Linked DNA regions of Homo sapiens. The protein of the gene in region 2 purifies or fractionates together with the protein of the main gene of each other region. This does not show direct contact. Each region holds a gene or a part of one and is shown on either strand. Other genes may lie near its edges.

Region 1 (3,500 bases), about 61 Mb from region 2:
GTGATCACAGTGCCTGGTTTTAACTTTATATCACTGAAAGAGGCACTGAAGAGGGTAGAAAAGACACACTTGAATTGCTGATTCACCCCCTCCCCGCCATCCCCCAGCAGTGACTGTGGTACAGAGACAGAATCGATGAGCTTGAGGGCGGGAGAGCACAGTGACTGTGGGACTTGGCTTTAGAATGCAATGCTGCCCAATCACAGGGGAAAGCACACAGGGCAGAACTCAGCCAGTGCCCATGGAGGGAGCATTTAGACCAGCGTTAGCCAGGGGTGAACTGCCCATCCCAGCGGTTGGAAGCTGAGTTCCGATTAGCCCCTGGGGCTCTAAATACTCAGCAGTGATAGCTGGGCAGTACTTGTCGTGGGCCTTGGGTGAGACTCAGAGACATGCTGGCTTCCAGTGATTCAGCACATTCCCAGCTGTGGTGACTATGGGGAGAGACTCCTTCTACTTGAGAAAAGGAGAGGGAAGAGTCAAGGGGACTTTGTCTTGCAGCTTAGGTACCAGCTCAGCCACAGTGGGGTACAGCACCAAGCAGGCCCTTGGGGTCGCCAGTTATGGGCTGTGGCTCTTGGATGCCATTTCTGGACCTGCTGTTTGTCAGAGGAGAGCTCACTGCCCTGAAAAGAGAGTCCCAGGCCAGGCACCATTCACCACAAGCTGGTGAAAGGAGACTTTGGGCCTCGAGAGAATACTGGAAGTATCCAGGCAGTACTCCTGTGGGCCTGGAGTAGTGGTGGCCACAGAGAGAGACTCCTCTGTGAAAAGGGGAAGGAAGAGTGGGAAGGACTTTGTCTTATGGCTTGGGTGCCAACTCAGCTGCAGTAGAACAGAACACCAGGTAGATTCCTAAGGTTTCTGACTCCAGGCCCTGGCTCGCAGATTACATCTCTGGACCTTCCAGGGTCATGGGGAACTCACCACCCTGAAGGGGAGGACACAAGCCTGGCTGGCTTTGTCACCTGCTGACTGTAGAGCCCTAGGGCCTTGAGCAAACATGGGCAGTAGCCAGGTACTGGTTACCACAGGCCTTGGGTGAGACACAGTACGGTGCTGGCTTCAGATCTGACCCAGTGCAGTCCCAATGCTGGTGGCCACAGGGGTGCTTGTGTCACCCCTCTCTCCAGGCAGCTCAGCACAAAGAGAGAAACTCTGTTTGTTTTGGAGAAAGTAAGGGAAGAGAACAGGAGTCTCCTCCTGGTAATCTGGAATTCTTCCAGATCTTATCCAAGACCATCAAGGAGGTACCTCTATGAGCCTTCAAGAGCCACAGAGATACTGAGCATGGGGTCCTCCCTAATGCAGATGAACTGCAGAGTCCAAACACTTAGATTACGACACCCAAGTCCCTTCAAATACCTGGAAAGTCTGCCCAAGGAGGACAGGTACAAACAAGTCCAGAATGCCAAGACTACAATAAATACCTAACTCTTCAATGCCCAGACACCAATGAACATCCACATCAAGACCATGTTGGAAAAAATTACCTCACCAGATGAACTAAATAAGGCACCAGCAACCAATCTCCCAGAAACAAAGATAGTGATCTTTCAGATCGAGAATTCAAAATAGCTGTTTTGAGGAAACTCAACAAAATTTTAGATAACACAGAGAAAGAATTCAGAATCTTATCAGATAAATTTAACAAAGAGAAAAAAAAAGAGGTATTGACTTTAAAGAGGAGGTTGAGAGAGAAAATGAGATGGAAAGTTTATTCAAAGTGAAAATAACAGAGAACTTTCCAAACCTAGAGAAAGATATCAATATTATTATTATTTGAGACAGTCTCGCTCTGTTGCCCAGGCTGGAGTGCAGTAATGTGATCTTGGCTCATGTGACCTCCGCCTCCCTGGTTCAAGTGATTCTCCTGCCTCAGCCTCCCCAGTAGCTGGGATTACAGGCACAGGCCACCTTGCTTGGCTAATTTGGTATTTTTAGTAGAGACAGGGTTTTGCCATGTTGGCCAGGCTGGTCTCGAAATACTCATCTCAGGTGATTTGCCCACCTCAGCCTCCCAAAGTGCTGGGATTACAAGCATGAGCCACTGAGCCCAGCTGAGAAAGATATCAATATTAATTACAAGATTATAGAACACCAAGCAGATTTAGCCCAAATGAGTCTACCTCAAGACATTTAATAATCAAACTCCCAAACATCAAGGAATAAAAAACAAAAAAGAATCCTAAAAGTGCAAGAAGACAGACGTGGTGGCTTACGCGTGTAACCCCAGCACTTTGGGAGGCTGAGTGGGGAGGATAACTTGAGGTCAGGAGTTGGAGACCAGCCTGGCCAACATGGCGAAACTCCATCTCTACCAAAAATACAAAAATTAGCCAGGGGTGGTGGCGCTCACCTGTAAACCCAGCTACTCGGGAGGCTGAGGCAGGAGAATCACTTGAACCCAGGAGGCAGAGGCTGCAATGAGCAACCATTTATTGCATTCCAGCCTGCGCGGCAGAATGAGACTCCATCTCAAAAAACAAAAAAACAAAAACAAAAATTAGCTGGGCATGGTGGCGCATGCCTGTACTCCCAGCTACTTGGGATGCTGAAGCACAAGAATCACTTGAACCCAGGAGGCAGAGGTTGCAGTAAGCAGTGATCCCGCCACTGCACTCCACAGCCTGGGCAACAGAGGGAGACTCTGTCTCAAAAACAAAAAAAATTCAGTAACATTTCTATATGCCAACAGGGAACAATCTGAAAAAGAAATTAAGAAAGATAATTCCATTTACAATAGCTATAAATAATATAAAATACCTAGGAATAAACTTTACCAAAGAAGTGAAAGATCTCAACAATAAAAACTATAAAATACTGATGAAAGAAATTGAAGAGGACACACAAAAACATGAAAAGAGATTTCATGTTTCTGGATTGGAAGAATTGATATTGTTAAAATTCCGTACTACCTAAGGCAATCTACAGGTTCATTGCAATCCCTATCAGAATACTAATGACATTCTTCACAGAAATTCTACATCCTAAATCTTAGGACTTTTGTAAAAAAAATCATAAAATTTTTATGGAACCATAAAAGACCTAAAATAACCAAATCTATTCTGAACAAAAAGAACAAAGCTGGAAGAATCACATTACATGACTTCAAATTATACTGCAAAGCTATAGTAACCAAAACAGCATGGTACTGTCATAAAAACAAATACATAGACCAATGGAACAGAATAGAGAACCCAGAAACATGTCTAGGGTGAACTCATTTTTGACAAAGGTGACAAGTGTATACACTGGAGAAAGCACAGGCTCTTCAATAAATGGTTCTGGGAAAATTGGATATCCATATGCAGAAGAATGAAACTAGACCCTCATCTCTCTCCATATAGAAAAATCAAGTCAAAATGGATGAAAGATTTAAATCTAATACCTCAATCTATGAAACTATTATATATAAGAAAACTTTGGGGAAACTCTCCAGAACATTGGTCTGGGCAAAGATTTCTTGAGTAATACCCAAGGAGCACAAGAAACCAAAG
Region 2 (3,963 bases):
AGCTGAGTATAATTTGGCTTCCGTCATTAGGAATGAGATAAATCCTAACTGTCCAACAGAAATATGGACTTGTTTCTAAAGGAGTTAAATATGTTTGACCTGAAAGTTTAAACCTATTACATTAAATGATTAAAGGGACCTTTTTTGGCAGTCTGATCAATGGGTTGCAAATGCTCTGCAGATGGGAGGTGACGATAGGAAGGAATTATGCAACATCATCCTTCCTCTAGTTTAGCAGGAAATATTTCTGGTAGGAAGACATACATGAAAATAGGTCTGCTGTGTAATGTCATTTTAGAACCAAACTTTGTTGGGTTAAGATGCTTTTACAGAAAACATCCTTTTAAAAACTTGGTACTGTATGTTTTAGTTAAGATAACACTTTTTGTGTCCTTGTTTGCTGAAAACGTTCAAGTACATAAAGAATTGTATTATTAAATTACCCACTGACAACAATTTCTTTAAAGTTTATATATTTGTGGGAAGGTCACAATTTACATACTTCCAAAAAACAAAATACCTTGGTTTATACATTGTCAAAACAGTCTGTAAAAATCAAAACAAATTGAAACAAAGGCAGAGATACTAGGCGAAAGAGGCAGAGACTTCCTATATACACTACAACTTCCTATTCAAATTTCAAAGTGCTTGTTTCAAGAGAACACATTTCTCACCTACTACCTTTAAACTAACATGCTTCTGGAAATGTGGTTTTCCTCCAAGGACAGGGATTCAATTTAGCTCAGCTCTGGCTCATTAGTGTGAATAAACAGAAGGGCTTTGCTTCAGGGAGGTAGACAGGAATCACAACAAGGCTTGACTTTAATGAGACCACATTACCACAGAGGTTCTCTTTTCCAGATGACTTCCAACATTGTCAGTGACAGTCAACTGTTGGGAGCAGATCTTGGGACAAACCTTTTAGGGAAAATGAACTAAATCAGCATGAGCCACTGTCAAGTTTAAGGTGACAGCTGAAGGCTGGGTGTGGTGGCTCATGCCTGTAACCCCAGCACTTTGGGAGGCTGAAGCAGGAGCATCGCTTGAGCCCAGGAGTTTGAAACTAGCTTGGGCAACATAGCAAGACCTCATCTCTACGAAAAAATTAAAGACTTAGCCAGGTGTGCACATCTGTAGTACCAGTTACTGGGCAGGCTGAGGCGGGAGGAAGGCTTGAGCCCAGTAGTTCGGGGCTGCAGTGAGCCATGATTGTGCCACTGCACTCCAGCCTAGCAACAGAGTGAGACCTTGTCTCTAATAATAATAAAAGGGGCAGCTGGAGTCCACCAAGAAGTATTGTCCATCAGGGATCTTTTCAGCAGGCACTAAACTGCTGGGGAAAGAGTTTCATCTTGAGCCTTTACAACAACAAACAACTTTTTTCTGTGAATCTGACTGATTGCCTAGGTAGAAATGTCCTTTTCGGTGGCCTCAGTGATACATTGATACTGTTTATGGTCATTTACAGTAAAGAAAATATGTCCTGCAAAGAGACAGACCACCAGAATATTTAGTTCTATGGCAAATACCTTATTTGAGGAGCTCATGAGCTTCATGACCAGTCACTTCTGGAGAGTGCAGGAGTTCAGAGTGTCCCAGCCCCTTTTGCTCTTCAGTGTTTCAAAATACATGTGTGGAGAAGCTGTTTTCTTGCAAAGAAGTTATGATCTCTGGATTGTCATGCCATCATTGGCACACAACTCCCCTCTGGAAGAGGAGCTGTTTGCCAGAAATATTTTCTCAGTGTGATTTATGGCATTCCACCTGGCTCTCTCCATCAGTCTCTACTAGCAGAGCCACTCCCAAATGACCCAGAGCCATCCTTTCCACTCCAATGGAGAGGCTTCCAGAACATGCTGCAGTTGGGTCCTTGGCATTGACTTGCAACTGAAGCTCCTCAGGAGTTGGTAGGAGGAAGTAGAGGGACTGGTGCCTGTAGCTCCTGGCTTTCCTCTCTGACCAACGCATAGCGCCTGGCTTTTCTAGGGTCGGGCTCTGGCGTCTCCTCTGCCCATCTCCCCACACGGCGCACACCTTTGGCCACCTTGGGTGCGTTCCTGCAAGGATTGTGGTCATAGATGACCAGCTTCAGACTTGACAGGTGCGCCAGGCTGGGGAAGTAACGGATGCTGTTCCAGTCCACATCAATCACCTCCAGGAAGGGCATGTGAAGCAGCACAGTGGGAAAGTCAGTTAGCCGGTTGCCCGAGAGCCAGATGGTCCTCAGCTCCTGGAGGCGCCGGAGCTGGCCTGGCAGCAAACGCAGGGCGTTGGAGCCGGCATGCAGAGTCTTAAGGAGACTCAGCTCACAGACCACATCCGGCAGCTGGGTGAGGCAGTTGGCCTCGATCCACAGGGTCCTGAGGTTCTGGAGCAGGCTCAGCTCACTGGGGAGGTCGCAGAGTTTGTTGTTGCCCAGGTAGAGGATGCAGAGCTGTTTCAAGGTGCACACCACCTGGGGCAGAGCCTTGAAGTTGTTGAAATCCAAGGCCAGAATCTGCAGGTTCTGTAGCTGCCCCAGCTCCGGAGGCAGGCTATTGAGGTGGTTGTCGCTCAGGTAGAGCTTGACCAGCTCCCTGAAGGAGCACACGTGCAGGGGGAAGCGGCGTAACTGGCTCCCACTCAGATCCACCATCTTGTCCAGCGGCATCTCACGGAGGTCCCTGACCACATAGTTCTGGCAACGGTCAGCAGGGATGAAGGCCACGAGGGCCCTGATGGTGTTCCCCATGCGGAGGCTGGGGGCATGGCGAGCCCCAGAGGACAGACTCACTGAGCGGGGCTGGCTCAGCTGACTGCTCTGGGGCCTATCCTACCCTCCCATTATAACTTGGGGATTGCATGACAAAAGCCAGTCACTTTGACAGAGAAAAGTGCTCCTGATAGCAACTTGAGTGTCCGGCGACAGCGCAACAGTCCGGCAGGGGCTGGGAGGCCATGTCTGACTCACATGCTTGCCTTTAATCACCTAAGCCCCAATCCCCTTTATCAACCTTTTTTCATTTCAAGCTGAAAATAGCTTTGCTGTTTTTTTCCCTAATGATAAAATATTAACACATTACATAAAGGTGTAAAAGAAGAAAATGAAAAACACCCATAGTTCTATTACCCAGAGATAAATACTGTACACATTTGCATGTGTCCTCTAGTCTTTTCGCTATAAGTAATCATTTGTTTTTTAAAATTGCACTTTAGGAGCTTTTTTTTTTTTTTTTTTTGACAGGGTCTCATTCTGTCACACAGGCGGGAGTGCAGTGGTGCAATCTTGGCTCACTACAGCTTCTACCTCCCTGGCTCCAGCAATCCTCACACCTCAGCCTCCTGAGTAGCTGGGACTACAGGTGCACACCACCGTGCCCAGCTAATTTTTGTATTTTTTGTAGAGATGAGGTTTCGCCATGTTGCCCAGGCTGGTCTTGAACTCCTGGGCTCAAGAGATCTGCCCGCCCTGGCCTCTCAAAATGCTGGGATTACAGGCGTGAGCCATGGTACTTGACCAGGAACCTTATTTTTTAATCATGACGTATCATGGACATATTTTCATGTTTGCAGATATCTATGCAATTATTTTAAACCCCTGCATAGTATTCCATTACATGGATGTGCAGTAATTTAAACAGTTTTCTGTGGTTAGGCATCTAGGTTGTTTACAAAGCATGACTATTATAAACATCCATGTGCATACAGATGTGAGCAGCAATCCACTCATTTCTTTAGAAACCGTCCTTAGAAGTGTTGCTGGAGCAGGCCAGGTGTGGTGGCTCACGCCTGTAATCCCAGCACTTTGGGAGGCCAAGGTGAGCCAATCACTTAAGCCCAGGAGTTTGAGGTCAGCTTAGGCTACATGGTAAAACCCCATCTCTACTAAAAAAAACAAAAATTAGCTGGGTGTGGTGGCACACACCTATAATCCCAAGTACTTGGGAGGCTGAGGCAGGAGAATGGCGTGAACCCAGGAGGCGG

Evidence for each region. The genes of interacting proteins can lie anywhere in the genome.
Region 1: the proteins of LRRC10 (region 2) and A2ML1 purify together in Homo sapiens (affinity purification with mass spectrometry; one large-scale study listed by BioGRID and IntAct). This does not show direct contact.

Annotation. Positions count from the first base shown.
Region 1 is NC_000012.12:8,825,621-8,829,120, reverse strand, and holds part of A2ML1 (alpha-2-macroglobulin-like protein 1 isoform 1 precursor), read right to left. Parts: intron 1-3,500. UniProt on the Homo sapiens protein: Is able to inhibit all four classes of proteinases by a unique 'trapping' mechanism. This protein has a peptide stretch, called the 'bait region' which contains specific cleavage sites for different proteinases.
Region 2 is NC_000012.12:69,608,108-69,612,070, forward strand, and holds LRRC10 (leucine-rich repeat-containing protein 10), read right to left. Parts: upstream 2,801-3,963; 5' UTR 2,732-2,800; coding exon 1,898-2,731; 3' UTR 457-1,897; downstream 1-456. UniProt on the Homo sapiens protein: May play important roles in cardiac development and/or cardiac function.